Homo sapiens: one gene and its partner. The protein of the gene in region 2 interacts with the protein of the main gene of each other region in a biochemical or structural test. Each region holds a gene or a part of one and is shown on either strand. Other genes may lie near its edges.

Region 1 (7,706 bases), on a different chromosome or scaffold from region 2:
ATATGACTGTTGTCCTTATAAAAAGGGGAAAATGTGGGTCGGGTGCAGTGGTTCACACCTGTAATCCCATCATTTTGGGAGGCCAAGGCTAGCAGATCACCAGGTCAGGAGATCGAGACCATCCTGGCCAACATGGTGAAACCCTGTCTCTACTCAAAATATAAAAATTAGCTGGGCATGGTGGTGGGCGCCTGTAGTGCCAGCTACTCGGGAGGCTGAGGCAGGAGAATCTCTTGAACCCGGGAGGTGGAGGTTGCATATGTCAGATTACCATGTTGCAGTGAGCCAAGATCGCACCATTGCATTCCAGCCTGGCAACAGAGTGAGACCCTCTCTCAAAAAAAAAAAAAAAAAGGGAAAATGTGGACACAGACGCACATGTGGACACAGACACCACCATGTGAAGATTAAGTCAGAGGTCGAGGCAATGCTTCTTTAAGCCTAGGAACGCCAAAGACTCCCAGGAAACCACCAGAAGCCAGGGAAGGAGCATGGAAGAGATTCTCTCACAGCCTCAAAAGGAACCAACTCTAACACCATACATGATCTTGGACTTCTGACCTTGAGAACCGTGAGACAATAAATCCCTATTGTTTAAGTCGTGCACTTTGAATTACTTTGTTATGGCAGCCCTAGCAAACTCATACAAGGACCCAGGCTTCTCTTCCCCCAATTGTCACCTCTTAGCAGACTCCTGACCTGGCAGCAGCTGGGACAGAGCTGCTCTGGGATGTTCTGGGCCTCAAAGCTGAGCCTGAGACTTGAGCTGAATCCCTGGCAGGGGCTCAGGGAGCTGTTGACCAAGGGTCCGGCTGGCTGGGGGTGACTGTGAAGGAGCCATGGCTGCTGTTCCCATCCCTCCAGAATCTCCTCCCCAAGCTGCCAGTGCAGGGAGGAGCCACTGCAGTGTGGACTCTAAGCCTCCCAGAGGTAGGAGGGTCCCAGCAGTTGTGAGGGGTCTGGGGAGGGAGGACAGGACTTAGCAGGGGCCTCTTCTCTGAATACTATGGAGCTCTCGCCCAGCTGCCCACACTCTCGCGCACCTCCCCCCACACTCACAATGCACAAAGAGACTCAGAGAGATTTGCAGGGAGCCCAGAGGATGCTGAGCACGGCAGGTGAAATCTCCTTCTTCTGCAGACCCTACTTGAGGCAGCTCCAGGACCCCGGTATTGGAGATGGGGGTGGCGTTCAGGGCGGGGAAGCCCTGGAACCAGCTCAGGTGTGCAGGGGGGTTGCCGTCAGCATCACAGAGCAGCCGCAGAGCCTGGCCCTCCAGGACAGGGAGGGACGAGGTGTTTTGCAGGATTTTGAAGGCTTTGGGGAGAGAGGTGTAGAGAGTTAGAGATGGGGTATAGGGGCAAAGCACTGGTGTCCCTCTCCTCCTGTGGGGTCCACACTAGCTCTGAGGAGGAGACTAGTAAAGTGGGGGCCTCAGGTCTTCAGAAAAGCCCAGACCATTTCCCTGGAGCTGCCCAGGCTGTCCTGCAGAGAGTGGAGCAAGGGCTGCGGACAGCGTCGTGGCAGACAAGTGCCATTCCTGGACCATGGAGACGCCTGAGGCAGTAGGAAAACAAGCAAGAGAGAAGAGGGAGTGCGAGGGGTGTGGCAGCTCCTGCCGAAGAGGCGACAAAGGCTGGGGGTGAGCAAAGATTCAGTCCAGGTCTTTGAAGTCTATGGAGGCCTTAGTCCTGGCTTCTCATATTGATCCCCGTTAGTCCCCACTCTGCTTCCATCTGGCCCTGGAGAGAACAGGACTGGCTGGTTCCTACCTGCGCTGTTTCCTTGGAAGATGCTGATGGCCACTTTCTGTGGAGCATCTGGGGTGGAAAGAGGTGGCCGCCTCAACATCCCTGAGGAGGGATGGTAGGCATGGGGCCTTCCCCTCAGGAGCCATGAAAACAGGGAAAGGGGCTCTCCTCTTTGGCAACCAGGTCCCCAACTTTAAGCTCTGGCTCAGCCCTGCCCTGTCCCCCCACACCCTCAGGGACCCGGGCGTCCTGGCCCAGCACTCACAGGAGACATTGAGCTGGATGGTTCTCTCCATGGTCACACCGGCTCCAGGGAACGTCACCTGACAGGTGAGGTTGGTGCTGTGGTCCTGGGGCCGTGGGGTGATTGTGAGCACCGAGGACTGGGTGGTCCTGGGGCCCAGGGAGGTGGGGGCAGCTGACATCCAGGAGAAGATGGGGGGCGTCCCCTGCTCACAGACCCAGGGCACAGAGCAGGTCAGATTGCTGGGATGGCCAGACTCCAGGGTCCCTGGGATGGAGATGTTGGGCCTGTGGGTCAGGGCTGGTGAGGAGATGGGGACGCAGGATCAGGATGGAGGTCTGAGGTTTCACCCAGGGGGAAGCCCAGTCTCTGGTCCAGCTCCTTCTCTGAGCCCAACATGCTTAATTGTACCCGCCTCCCAAGACGGGGCTCCCGTCCCAGCCCTGCCCTACGGCCCCCATGACCTTCCCCTGTGGCTAGTCCTGGAGCTGGTTCCTTACCCATCACACGCACAGAGAGCTTGGAAGATGTATAACCGTATTTCATCCATTTGGACTTCAACCGAAAGAAGTATGCAGCATTGTCCCTCCTCCGGGCATCTCTGATGCTCAGGGAGCAGTTCTTCCTTCTGGGATCCCAGAGGAGGTGGAATCGGCCCCGGGTCTCCTCCTGCACTTCTTCGTCTGGGTCGTTTGTGGCCACTGGAACATCAGCCCCTTCCAGGAACCAGTAGCCATAACCATAGTACGAGGCTGGAAGGGTAGTGGGCAATCTGCAGGGTACGAGGACGCACAGACCCTCCTGCACCGTCAGTGACTCTGGCCCCTCCAGCTGGAATCTCCGCTCCTGAGCCAGGGCCCCTATGGAGACATGAGGGTCAGCTCGGCCCAGCCCCACGGCACCTCTCCCCTGGCCCACTCACCTGCCCACAGCAGGGGCAGCAGCAGCGGTAGCATCTCTGAGGCGGAGGCTTCCTGGGCTCCCTGCATGAGCAGAGAAGGGGAAGGGAGTGGAGGGGAAGGACTGCGGGGAGGAACGGGTGGCTGGGGAGGAGCGCGTGATCTCGGCTGTTCACAGAAGAGGAACTGCGAAGCCACAAGCCCTCGGAGCTCCACTCCCTCTGCACAGAGCAGACGGAAACTTTGAGACCCAGAGACCTGCCCAAAGAAGAGCAGAGGAGAAGAGACTGTGTCCCGCCTCCCACCTCGGGGCTTCCTGTGAGCAACAGAGCCCGGACCAGGGCCTCCCGGGGCATCTGAGGAATGCGAAACCTGTGTCCAAGGCCCTGCCCACCTGAGGTGCTTTTCTGTGCACCACTGTTTACACCTGGGAGCTGGTCACTCCTGGCCCCAGAGAGTCACAGCCTCATCCCACGCCATGAGAAAGTCAGTCCTGCAGGATATAGGATTCTGTAGGGTCTGTGGGAGTGTCTGGGACAGTGAAAGGAAGAAGGGTCCCAGGTGCAGTGTGGGTGATAGCCACTCATTCATTCACTCATTCATTCATTCATTCATTCATTCACCAAAGACATAGTGAGCATCTGTATGTAGGTCGGGCTGGAGAAGAGATGCCAGGGACCTGGTCCCTACCCTTGAGATGATCCCCATCCATAGCTTCCCATCCTCAGCACACACCCTCACTATCTAGCTTTAGAGCTGTGGACACTGGTGAGTTTGCCAAGTGACACAGTAGAATGCCAGATATTTTTTAAAACATGAGTATGGAGGTTTTTCCTTGACAGCTAGTACGCTGATTTACAAAATTTCAATGACATCTCCAAAATAAGAACCATGCAACATCTTCATGTAAATCAAAAAGGACACATATTTTATGAACTGCAGTGCAGAAGAAACTTCTTTTGAATTAATGTTGCCACTCAGTGCAGTGTGGACTGGAGAGATTTTTTTTTAGGTCCTCATCATAGAGATTAGCAATTTCTTTCCTGTGAAAAATCTGCTTCTCACAGTTAAATGTGGCACAAAAGACATATTTCTGGACAACGTGAGCAGAATATCCTGACAAAATTAAAATTTTTAGGTCTAGCTCACATGGTTTTCTATTTTCCTCTGTGCAGTATGCATCTGGCAAATCTCTAATACCTATGAGGTATTAGAATTTGCCACCATATATTTGTAAATTTTTTTATTTCTACAAACTTAAGGAGTAGATGTAAAATTTTTTTGCATGTATATAATGCGTAATGATTATGTCAGGATATTTAGAGTGTCCGTCACGTGAGTGCAATACATTCTTGTTAACTAAAATCACACTATTCTGCTCTCTAACGCTGAATTTATTCCTTTTAACTGTATGTTTGTAGCACTTCACTCACTTCTCTTCATCTTCTGTCCTCCCCCATCTGACCCTTTCCAGTCTCTGTTGTCTATCTTTCTACTGTCCACCTCCATGTGATAATATTTTTTTAGCTCCCACATGTAAGTGAGAACATGCAACATTTGTCTTTTTGTGTCTGACTTATTTCAATTTAGATAATGAATTCTAGTCCCATCCATGTTGCTGCAAATGACACGATTTCATTCTTTTTTATGGCCAAATAGCATGTATACTATATTTTCTTTATCCATTCATCTGTTAATTGACACTTAGGTTGGTTCCATATCTCTGATATTGTGAATAGTGCAGCAAAAATCATGTGAATGCAGGTATCTCTTTGATGTATTTCTTTCTTTCCCTTCGGGTAGATACCCAGTAGTGGGATTGCTTGAGTGATCGAATAGTAATTCTATTTTTAGTTCCTGAGAAATGTCCATAGTGTTTTCAAAAGTGGCTGTACTAGTTTAAATTCCCACCAACAGTACAGAAGAGTTATCTTTCTCCTCATCCTTGCCAAAATCTGTTATTTTTTGTTTTTTTAGTAATAGTCATTCTGACTGGGTAAGACGGTATCTCATTTTGGTTTAGATGTGCACTTCTCTGATGATTAGTGACGCTGACCATTTTGTCGTATTGGCTGTTCTTATGTATTCTTTGAGAACTGTCTATTCCTGTCCTTTGCCCACTTTTTACTTGGATTATTTGCTTTTTCCTGTTGAGTTGTTTGAGTTCCTTGTATAGTCTGGATATTAGTCTCCTGTCAGAAGAATAGTTTGCGAATATTTTCTCCAATTCAACAGGTTGTTTCTTCACTCTAATTATTTCTTTTCCTGGCAGAAGCTTTTTGTTTATTAAGTCCCATTTGTTTATTTTTGTTTTTGTTGCCTGTGCTTTTCAGAACTTAGTCATAATTTCTGACTCTTCTGACCAATGTTCAAAAGAGTTTTCCCTAGGTTTTCTTGTAGCTGTTTTTTTTTTTTATAGTTTTGGGTCTTACATTTAAGTGTATGATTCATTTTGAGTTTTTTTTTAATATGGTGAGAGAGAAGAATCCAGTTTCATTCTTTTGTGTGTGGGTATACAATTTTCCCAGCACCATTTATTGAAGAAGGTGTCCTTTCCTCAATATAAGTTCTTGTCAGTTTTGTTGACAATCAATTGGCTGTATACATGTGGCCTTATTTCTGGGTTATATTCCATTGGTCTATGTATCTATTTCTATACCAATATCATGCTGTTTTGGTTATTATAGCCTTGTAATATACTTTGAAGTCAGGTAAAGTGATACCACCAGCTTTGTTCTTTTTTCTCCGGATAGCTTTGGCTATTCAGGTTCTTTTTGGATCCATATGAATTTTATAATTGTTTTTTACAATTCTGTGAAGACTGACATTGGTATTTTCATATGGATTACATTAAATCTTTAGATTGCTATAGACCAGTGTGGGCTTCTTAACTATCTTAATTCTTCCAGTCATGAGTATGGGATGTTTTTCCATTTGTTTGTGTCATCTTCAATTTCTTTCATCAGTGTTTTTTAGTTTTTCCTGTATAGATTTTCACCTGGTAGGTCATTAAGAGCATATTGTTTAATTTCCATACATTTGTCTTGTTTCCAGAGTTCCTCTTGGTGCTGACTTGTTGTTTTGTTCCATTGTGGTCTGAGTATACATTGAGTAAATATTGATTTTTTTTTTAATTTATAGAGACTTATTTCGTAGCCGAATATATGGTGTATCCTGGAGAATGTTTCATGTACTGATGAAAAGAATATGTATTCTGCAGTTGTTGGGTAGAAGTTCTGTAAAAGTCTGTTAGTTCCATTTGGTCTATAGTGTAGTTTAAATGTGATGTTTGTTTGTTGATTTTCTGTCTAAGTGATCTGTCTTACTGAGAATAGGGTGGTGAAGCTTCCCACCATTATTGTATTGCATTCTATCTCTCTCTTTAGATCTAGTAATATTTGCTTTATAGATATGGCTGCTCCATTGCTGGGTGCATATATATTTAGAATTGTTATATCCTCTTGCTGGGTTGATCCCTTCATCATTATATAATGACCTTCTTTGTCTTTTTCTACTGCTCTTGACCTAAGGTCTGTTTTATCTAAGTATAGTTACTGCTGCTTACTATTGGTTTCCATTTGTGTGGAATATCTTTCTCCATCCTTTTACTTTTGGTCTATATGTGTCTTTTCTTAAGGTGTGTTTCTTTAAGCTGCACACTGTTGAGTCATTTTTAAAATCCATTCAGCCATTCTATATCTTTTAAGAGGATACTTTAATCCATTTACATACATGGTTATTATTGATTTGTGAGGCTTTCTTTCTGTCAGGTTATTAAACATTTTCTTGTTTTAAACATTCGTTGTTTCTTTCCTTTTATCTTATTGTTTGTCCTTGTGATTTGGTGGATTTCTGTAGTGGTACCATTTGAGTCCTTTCTAGTTCTCATTTGCATGATTGCTTTACCAGTGAATTTTTTACTTTCATATGTTTTCGTGATGATAAAATCATCCTTTTGCTTCCAGGTTTAGGACTCCTTTGAGTATTTTTTCCAAGGCTGGTCTAGTGGTAATAAATTTCATCAGCATTTGTTTGTCTTGGGATGAATCTATTTCTCTTTTATTTATGAAGAATAGTTTCTTTGCATGTTCTGTGGTGGCAGTTATTTTTTCTTTTAGCACTTAGAATATATCAGTTCCTTCTTTTCTGGTGTGTAAGGTTTCTACTGAGAAATCTGCTCTTAGTCAAATGGAATTTCCTTTAGAGGTAGCTAGATGCTTTTCTCTTGCTATTTGTAGAATTTGCTCTTTAACTTTGACTTCACACAGTCTGACTATAATGTGCCAAGGAGAAGACCTTTTGCATTGGGGATCTGCCCGGGGATCATTGGGCCTTCTGTATCTCTATACCTAAATCTTTTGTTAGACTTGGGATGTTTTCATGTATTATTTTGCTGAGTAGGTTTTCCAATATTTCTTTGTTTTTTCACCCTTAGAGATACCAGTAATTTATAAATTCCATTGCTTTTTGTTGTCCTAAATGTTATTAAGGCTATGCTCATTATTTTTTGTACTTTTCCCTTTATTTTTGTCTGACTAGATTATTTCAAAAAACCTGTCTTCAAGTTCCAAGATTCTTCTGCCAGATTTAGTCTATTATTGAACTTTTCAAATGTGTTTTGCATTTCCTTCAATTAACTATTCAGTTCCAGAATTTATATTTGGTTATTTTAAAAAATATATATCTCTTTGATCATTTTCTCATTTATACCCTGAATTGTTTTTCTGGTTTCCATAGTATTGATTTTCAGAATTCTGTTGTATCTCACTGAGCTTCTTTAACATCAATATTTTGAATTCTTTGTCTGGAATT
Region 2 (6,874 bases):
TTCTTCTGGCCACCAAATCAGAATGGAGGGGTACATTGTGCTGGGCATTGTGCCAAATTAGTTGCATCATGAGGTGATGCTGAACTCTTTATTTCTTCTCTCTTCATTCCCCTCATCCCTCTTTCCCTGTGGATCCTGTCCTTCTTCCATCCCAGTGGATGCCTCTTTCTGTCCTTGCTCTGTCCCGTGTTAAGGGGCCTCTCCAAAGTGGATCCCTTCTTCCCGAGGACCCCTCTCTTTGTCCTCATTCCTTGGGATGGCACAGAGGCCTCTCTCTGGCTCTTGGTGTGTGCTTCCTGTGCCTCCCTGCAACCTGTTTCCCAGTCCTCTCAGCGTCCAAACCCAGCTCTGTTTTCTTTACAGGGTAATCCTTTTGCCTGAATAACTGGCGGCTGGCTGTGGCCAAGCCTGGGGCGGAGCTGACCCCAGTGATGGATGGGGGCCAGCCAGGCCTTGCCCTGTCACACACAAACAGCTCTCCCGAAGCCCCTCCAGGAACGGCGACAGGAAACAAAGAGCAGGGGGCAAAGTTATTTTATTTAGATTTTTTTAAAAACAAACTTTTTTTTTTTTTTTTTTAAGACGGAATCTCGCTCTGTCATCAGGCCGGAGTGCAGTGGCGCGATCTTGGCTCACTGTACTCTCCGCCTCCCAGGTTTAAGCGATTCTCCTGTCTCAGCCTCCCGAGTGGCTGGGACTACAGGCGCCCGCCACCACGCTCAGCTAACTTTTGTGTTTTTAGTAGAGACGGGGTTTCACCATGTTGGCCAGGATGCTCGCCATCTAGTGACCTTGTGATCCCCCCACCTTGGCCTCCCAAAGTGCTGGGATTACAGGCGTGAGCCACCGCACCCGGCCAAACTTTTTTTTTTTTTTTTAAGTTACAAAAACAGACAACCATTTATACTTAGGAAGTTTCACACTCTGGGAATTAGCCATTGTGCCAGGTTTTGTGAGCAAAAGGCTTAAGACACCTCAGCCTGATTAGGTGGTTGTGAGGATCTGGGTCACATTTTCCAGAGCAGCTCTCACCCTGGCCACAGCACCAGCCTCTTCTCTAGAACTTGCTACTCTTAACTCCTTTAATATCAAACTTCTTTACCCTTCAAGGTCCCTTCAGCATGGCCCTTGCCCTCCTGTCTCTTCTTTCTCTGCCTCTCGCTGTAACTCACTGCTCACACTTTTACCTCTGCATCTCCACACACCAAACCTTCCAACAAAACAGGCTTCTCTCTGCAGGCAATTCACATCCCTCACCTCCTTCAAACTCTACCTCGAAACTCCTCTTTTCCAGAAAGCGCTCGGTCTCCCTGGTTCCAGTCCCTCATTACCTGGCTCACGTAATGCTCTGGGTATCAGAGGACCTGGGCTATAGTCCTGGTCCTGCCACCTGTTGGCTGTTATGGTCTTATGTATTTTCTTATTTTTAAATTCTCAGTTATCTTGTTTCAAAGGGATGTGGCTATAATAGAAGCTAAGATGCCCTGAAAAGTAAACATGTTACAAAGTGCAAGCAGGGTTCCCTGTGGGCCCCTGGGCACGGCCCCCCTCAGCTCATACCATTTCCCACCTGCTGTCAACTGCACCATGCATTTGGCTGTTCAGCTGCTGTGGTAAATACCCCACCTTGGCACATGGGTGAGTGCGGTTTGACCACTGGGAATGCAAGATCCCTGAGGGCAGGCCTCAATCTTAATGTTTATTGGGTGAGCTTCTCCAGCCTATAGCACCAGTCAGGGCTGAGCATGAAGCAGGTGCTCAGTCTTAAAGTTAACTGCTTTGATTCAAGTTTCCTTGGACAGATCCACCACCCACTGTGTGATAGCAAAAACACAGCAGCAGGATGGTGGCAGACCCCAAACCTCCTCTTTCATCTTCCTGAATGTGACCTCCAGTGGGAAGGGCCATCCTGGTGGCCTGGCCTGGGGAGTCCTGGCACTCGCCTAGCAGTGCTTGTCAGGTCTCAGGACCACCTGCTAAAGGAGTTTTCTTCACCACTGGAGTAAAAACCCCCCAAGATTTTTGGTAATTTTGGCCTTGCTTGGGTGAGCCAATCAGACAAGAACTACAATTTGGCATGCAAGCCCCAAATAGGAACACTGCCATGTAATAAACCCAGAGTGTGATCAACCCTGGACCATTCAGAGGGTCACACCAAGGACCCCTGCTCTGAAGATCGCAGTCACCAGTGTGGGACCGTCACTCCATGATAGGAAAGACCACTCCCTAGCAGTCGGAGAAAGCCAGAGCTTACCACTGCCCCAACAAATGGCTTTCAGCCCTTTGCGTTTTATTCTGGATGGATTTGAAGCAAAGCATCAGCTTCTCCAGGCTCTTTGGGGTCAGCCAGGGCCAGAAACTTCTCTCCAGGGGGTGCCTGGCCAGGCCTCACAACCCCCCTGAAAGAGCTATTTTCATGAAAAACATCCTAAGCAATTGCAGAAGATAAGAAAATGATCTCACTCCTTCCAAAGAACCCACCACACAAATGTTATTCAGAAAACACATTCTAGATCCTTCTCCCTTCTGCCCAAACATTCCCCACCCCTGGGTGCAGACACCTACATATGACACTTGACAAAACAAATCTTTTTAAAATAACCTGGTCCTTGGAGATCCACTCAGGGCAACACCATTGCAAACACTGTGATGTAACATCAGTCACAGTAGAAATGAAACCAGTTACGAGAGAACTAACTGGAGAGCCACCTTTGCCAGCTCTTGCTCAGATGAACCCAACCCTCGAGTCACTCAAAATGGGTTCAGCTCAGCCAGACCCATCTATGGGATTGGAAACTGCACTCCAGGGAGACCCCTGGCCCTGGCTGACCCCAAAGAGCCTGGAGAAGCTGGTGCTTTGCTTCAAATCCATCCAGAATAAAATGCAGAATAAATAAACATGTGCTTCCAGCTTGTGTTGCTGGGAGTTCCTGCGTGTGTGGATGTGGTCTTCATGGAACTCCTTGGAATTCTCAGAGGGAACCTTGTTCTGGTCATCCAAAGGCTCTGCCTACCCCTCTGCCCTCTCTGAAATCACCCCTGGTCACATTGAGGCATTCAGTGAGGGGGAGATGGGTCAAGAGGGGACAAGACAACTCTTGTTGATGGCTGAAGACCTTGGTGGGAATCCCAGATGCAGCCCACTCTTTGCTGGGTGGACCCCCTTCCTGGTGAGAATAGGATCCTGTGTATATATCTTTGGTTTCAAGCAAAAGGAGGCTTAGGGTCTTATGCCTTTGGAAGAGTGGCTTAGAGGAGTCAGGGAAATTGACAGAGTCCTGGATAAGGGGTGTCCATGCAATGCTCTTCAATCCTGGAGATACCTGGAAGCCAGAGTTCCTTCCCTTAACGTAGTCCTTGCAGGAAGAGTGACCTTCAAGGCCTCAGCACCCAGGGCTGAGGTCCAGCTGCCACAGCATGTCCTGCAGAGACCCCTGCAGCCTGCTCAGGGCCACCACCTCTGTGGAGTAGCCTGAAGCTTCCAGGACACCCCCCAGGCTGTCCAAGGTCTCCAGGCCACTGGCCCAGGGCAAGTGGCAGCTCTTAGAGAAGGCCAGCACGTGAAGAAGATCCCGGAGGTTCTCCAGGTCGTTGGATATTTGGATCACGTTTCTGGAAGGCATACTGGTGAGGATCTGTTGGTAGACTGCCAGTGTCTGGTCCATCTTGGATAAGGTCAGGATGGGGTGGAGCCCAGGAATGAAGTCCAAACCGGTGACTTTCTGTTTGGAGGAGACTGACTGCTATGCAGGAGGAAGAGGGAGAACAAGTGCTCAGCATGTGGGAGGAATCGCTCTCAGAGCCCTCTGCCTTCCCCGTGGGCATGGAGGGTCATTCTCTGGGCTGCCTCCTTCCACCCTCCCTCACCACTTTGGCTCAGGCCCTTGTATCCTGCACCCAGGTGACTGCCAAGCCTCTAAGCTGGTCTCCGAGATTCCTGCTTTTCCCACACCATCCTTCCCTCCACTTCCAGGCCAACTTTCCTAGGTCATTCCTTTCTCTACATGGCCTCTGCTGAAGAACCAGCCATGGTTTCATATGTTTTATTTAGTGGAGTCTGTTCCCCAGGCATCTGAGGTCCTCCATAAGCACCCCCACCCCCAGCCTTCCCTAGTCCCTTCTACCCCCAGCCGAGTCCTCCCTCCCAGTCAGCTTTTCCAGGCAGTCCCTCCTCCTTAGAGATCAAGGCCGTACCCTCAGTGAGGCCCCCCAACCCTGCTCCAGTGACTCCAGTTCCGGGAGGCTCTCCCCATCCATCTGCCCACAGCACTGAGGCTGACACCTCCGTGGTTACTACCCGGGGCTCCCGTGATATTGTGTATTACACCACCCAAGGTGGGGCACTCGGGATCTATCACGTGCAGTCTTGCTGAGTGGCTAATATGCCCAGCTAATTTTTTTTTATTATTTTTAAAGGAGACAAGAGTTTTTATCTATAAAATGCCCAAGACTCTATCTAGTTCTGAGCCATCTTTGCTTCCAGACACCTAACTTCTCCCTAACTGCCCAAGACTACCATAAGACACCCACAATGACCAGGAGACGTGGAAGTCTCCAGAGAGCTCCATGCAGGGGGTAAGGAGGATTCAATTGCTTTAGCTAATTTAGGCCTCATAACAACCTTGTGAATAGTGTGTGATATCCCCATTATCCAGATGATGAAAACAAGGCTTAAAGACAGTAAGGAACTTGCTGAAGATCTCACAGACATCAGAAGTGTGAAGATTCAAACTTAATCTTCCTAATTTCAAATACAGACCTCATCAGGAAAATGGCTGAAGGTCTAGGCCTGCTGGACCCCAGAGAAAAGACCAGGGTGGGCACTGACTGCTATTTGCAAATCAGTAGAGGGTTGAATGTGAAAAAGGGTAGACTCGCTCTTTTGGGTATCTTTGAGCGGCAGGGCCAGAGATCAGCTGGAACTACAAGAACCCTAATGACAAGCACATCTAGAGATGGGATAGAGGCCCTGAGGAGATGCTTCTGGGGGTCTTGTTCCTGCCAATGGGACACAAGGAACTTCACAGCTCCCTCTGGTCGTAGGCACTAAGATTCAAGGAAGTGAAGTCAGGGAGGAAGGCGAGCGCAGAAGGTGGGGACAGAGGGGACAGGAAGGAAAGAGACAGTGGCTGTGCCTGCATGTGGCTCAGCTAATCGCTGAGGCCTGGGTTTCCCCTTGGTAGGTTGAAAATAAGCACGTGAGGCCTCATGAGAATCCTATGATTTTTTTCTTATCTTTAATTTTTATTTTTTTAAAAATTAGAGAGAGAGGTCTTGCCATGTTGCCCAGGCTGGTCTTGAACTCCTGGCCTCAACTGATCCTCCTACCTTGGCCTCCTAAAGCAATGGGCTTACAGATGTGACCCATCATGCCTGATCAAATCCTATGACTTTTATTTATTTATTTATTTATTTTGAGACAAGGTCTCACTCTGTCACCCAGGCTGGAGCACGGTGGCATGATCAGGGCCCACTGCAGCCTCAACCTCCCAGGCTCAGGTGATCCTTCCATCTCAGCCTCCCCTAGCTGGGACCACAGGTACACACCACCATGCCCAGCTAACATTTTTTATTATTTTTGTAGAGATGGGGTCTCCCTATGCTGCCCAGGCTGGTCTCGAACTCTTGGGCTCGAATGATCCTCCTGCTTTGGCCTCCCAAAGTGCTGGGATGACAGGTACAAGCCACCACACCCAGCCCAAATCCTATGATTTTTAAATGGAAACATGTAGCAAAATCAAATGTTCTTGGAGTGGTTTAGAATTAGAACCACTAACCCCTGGAATCTCAGCAGGCAGAGGGGCCAAAAGAAACAACCAGAAAGAGTGGAGCCCTGTGCTTTCAAATCCTTCTCAGCTTCCAGTAGGTGCCTGGCATTCAGGAGGCGTTCAATAAATGTTTCTTGGACTATCTGGGTCCAGTGCCACTAGGAGCCAGTGCTGGGCTGGCTGCAGTTCTACTTTGTCCCCGCATACTCTCCTTACCGTGTGTGAAATGTCATTGATCCTGGTGACAATTGTCTTGATGAGGGTTTTGGTGTCATCTTGGACTTTTTGGATGGGCACAGCTTGGACATAGAAAAGATAGGGCCAAAGCCACAAGAATCCGCACAGGGTTCCCCAATGCATTTTCCTTCCCAGGATGGGCTTCTTGGGCCTGAAAACAGAAGGAACCACACACTGCAAGGAGCCGGTATCTCAGAATACACCCATCTTCACATTACCAACCACATTACCAGACGGGGATGAAAATCAGCTTTGCTTTCTGCTCTGGCTACCATCCCCTCAAAGTCAAAGACAATTCATGATCTACATATGTATTAATGAAATGCATCCCCTTAGAAAGAGGATTATTGTCTGGTCAATAAAACCACCATGAGGTATCCTGTAGACCACAGAGCTGTGAGGCCAGGGTGTGATCAAATGGACATGGTAGGGATGATGTAGACTTCATTGCATGCTCGAGGGAAAGATAACAGACTTTTAAGGTCTGGTTTGAACCCAGTCATTTACTCACTGCATAATTTTAAACATATCACATAACCACAAAATACTCCACCTTCATCCCTGTAATATATCTATCTCTAGGCTTTTATGAGGATCAAATTATCTGATGCACGTGAAAGGGCTTAAAGGTGTTGTGAAATGTGCTCTATCATTACCCTATCATTAGCGATTATGCTACTCACCCATCCTCTGCATTTCTCCCTCACACCAGCCTGCTGATACTCTGTGAGGGCCTTTACCACTTGCTTCCTTACGTCCTTTCTCTCCCACCCACTGGGAGCCTGAATCCCACTAGCACTTACTGACCTTCTAAATAATATGTCAGACGCAGTGCTCAGCACCGAGGATGCAATGGTGAACAACAGATG

Evidence for each region.
Region 1: the proteins of LEP (region 2) and SIGLEC6 interact in a biophysical measurement, tested with the Homo sapiens proteins (one study listed by IntAct).

What each region holds. Positions count from the first base shown.
Region 1 is NC_000019.10:51,528,665-51,536,370, forward strand, and holds the start of SIGLEC6 (sialic acid-binding Ig-like lectin 6 isoform 1 precursor), read right to left. Parts: upstream 3,007-7,706; 5' UTR 2,985-3,006; coding exon 2,918-2,984; intron 2,856-2,917; coding exon 2,496-2,855; intron 2,296-2,495; coding exon 2,017-2,295; intron 1,854-2,016; coding exon of another isoform or gene 1,821-1,853; coding exon 1,773-1,820; intron 1,318-1,772; coding exon 1,060-1,317; intron 960-1,059; coding exon of another isoform or gene 916-959; exon of another isoform or gene 311-915; intron 1-310. UniProt on the Homo sapiens protein: Putative adhesion molecule that mediates sialic-acid dependent binding to cells. Binds to alpha-2,6-linked sialic acid. The sialic acid recognition site may be masked by cis interactions with sialic acids on the same cell surface.
Region 2 is NC_000007.14:128,251,273-128,258,146, reverse strand, and holds the end of LEP (leptin precursor), read right to left. Parts: intron 6,157-6,874; 5' UTR 6,129-6,156; coding exon 5,985-6,128; intron 3,744-5,984; coding exon 3,384-3,743; 3' UTR 518-3,383; downstream 1-517. UniProt on the Homo sapiens protein: Key player in the regulation of energy balance and body weight control. Once released into the circulation, has central and peripheral effects by binding LEPR, found in many tissues, which results in the activation of several major signaling pathways.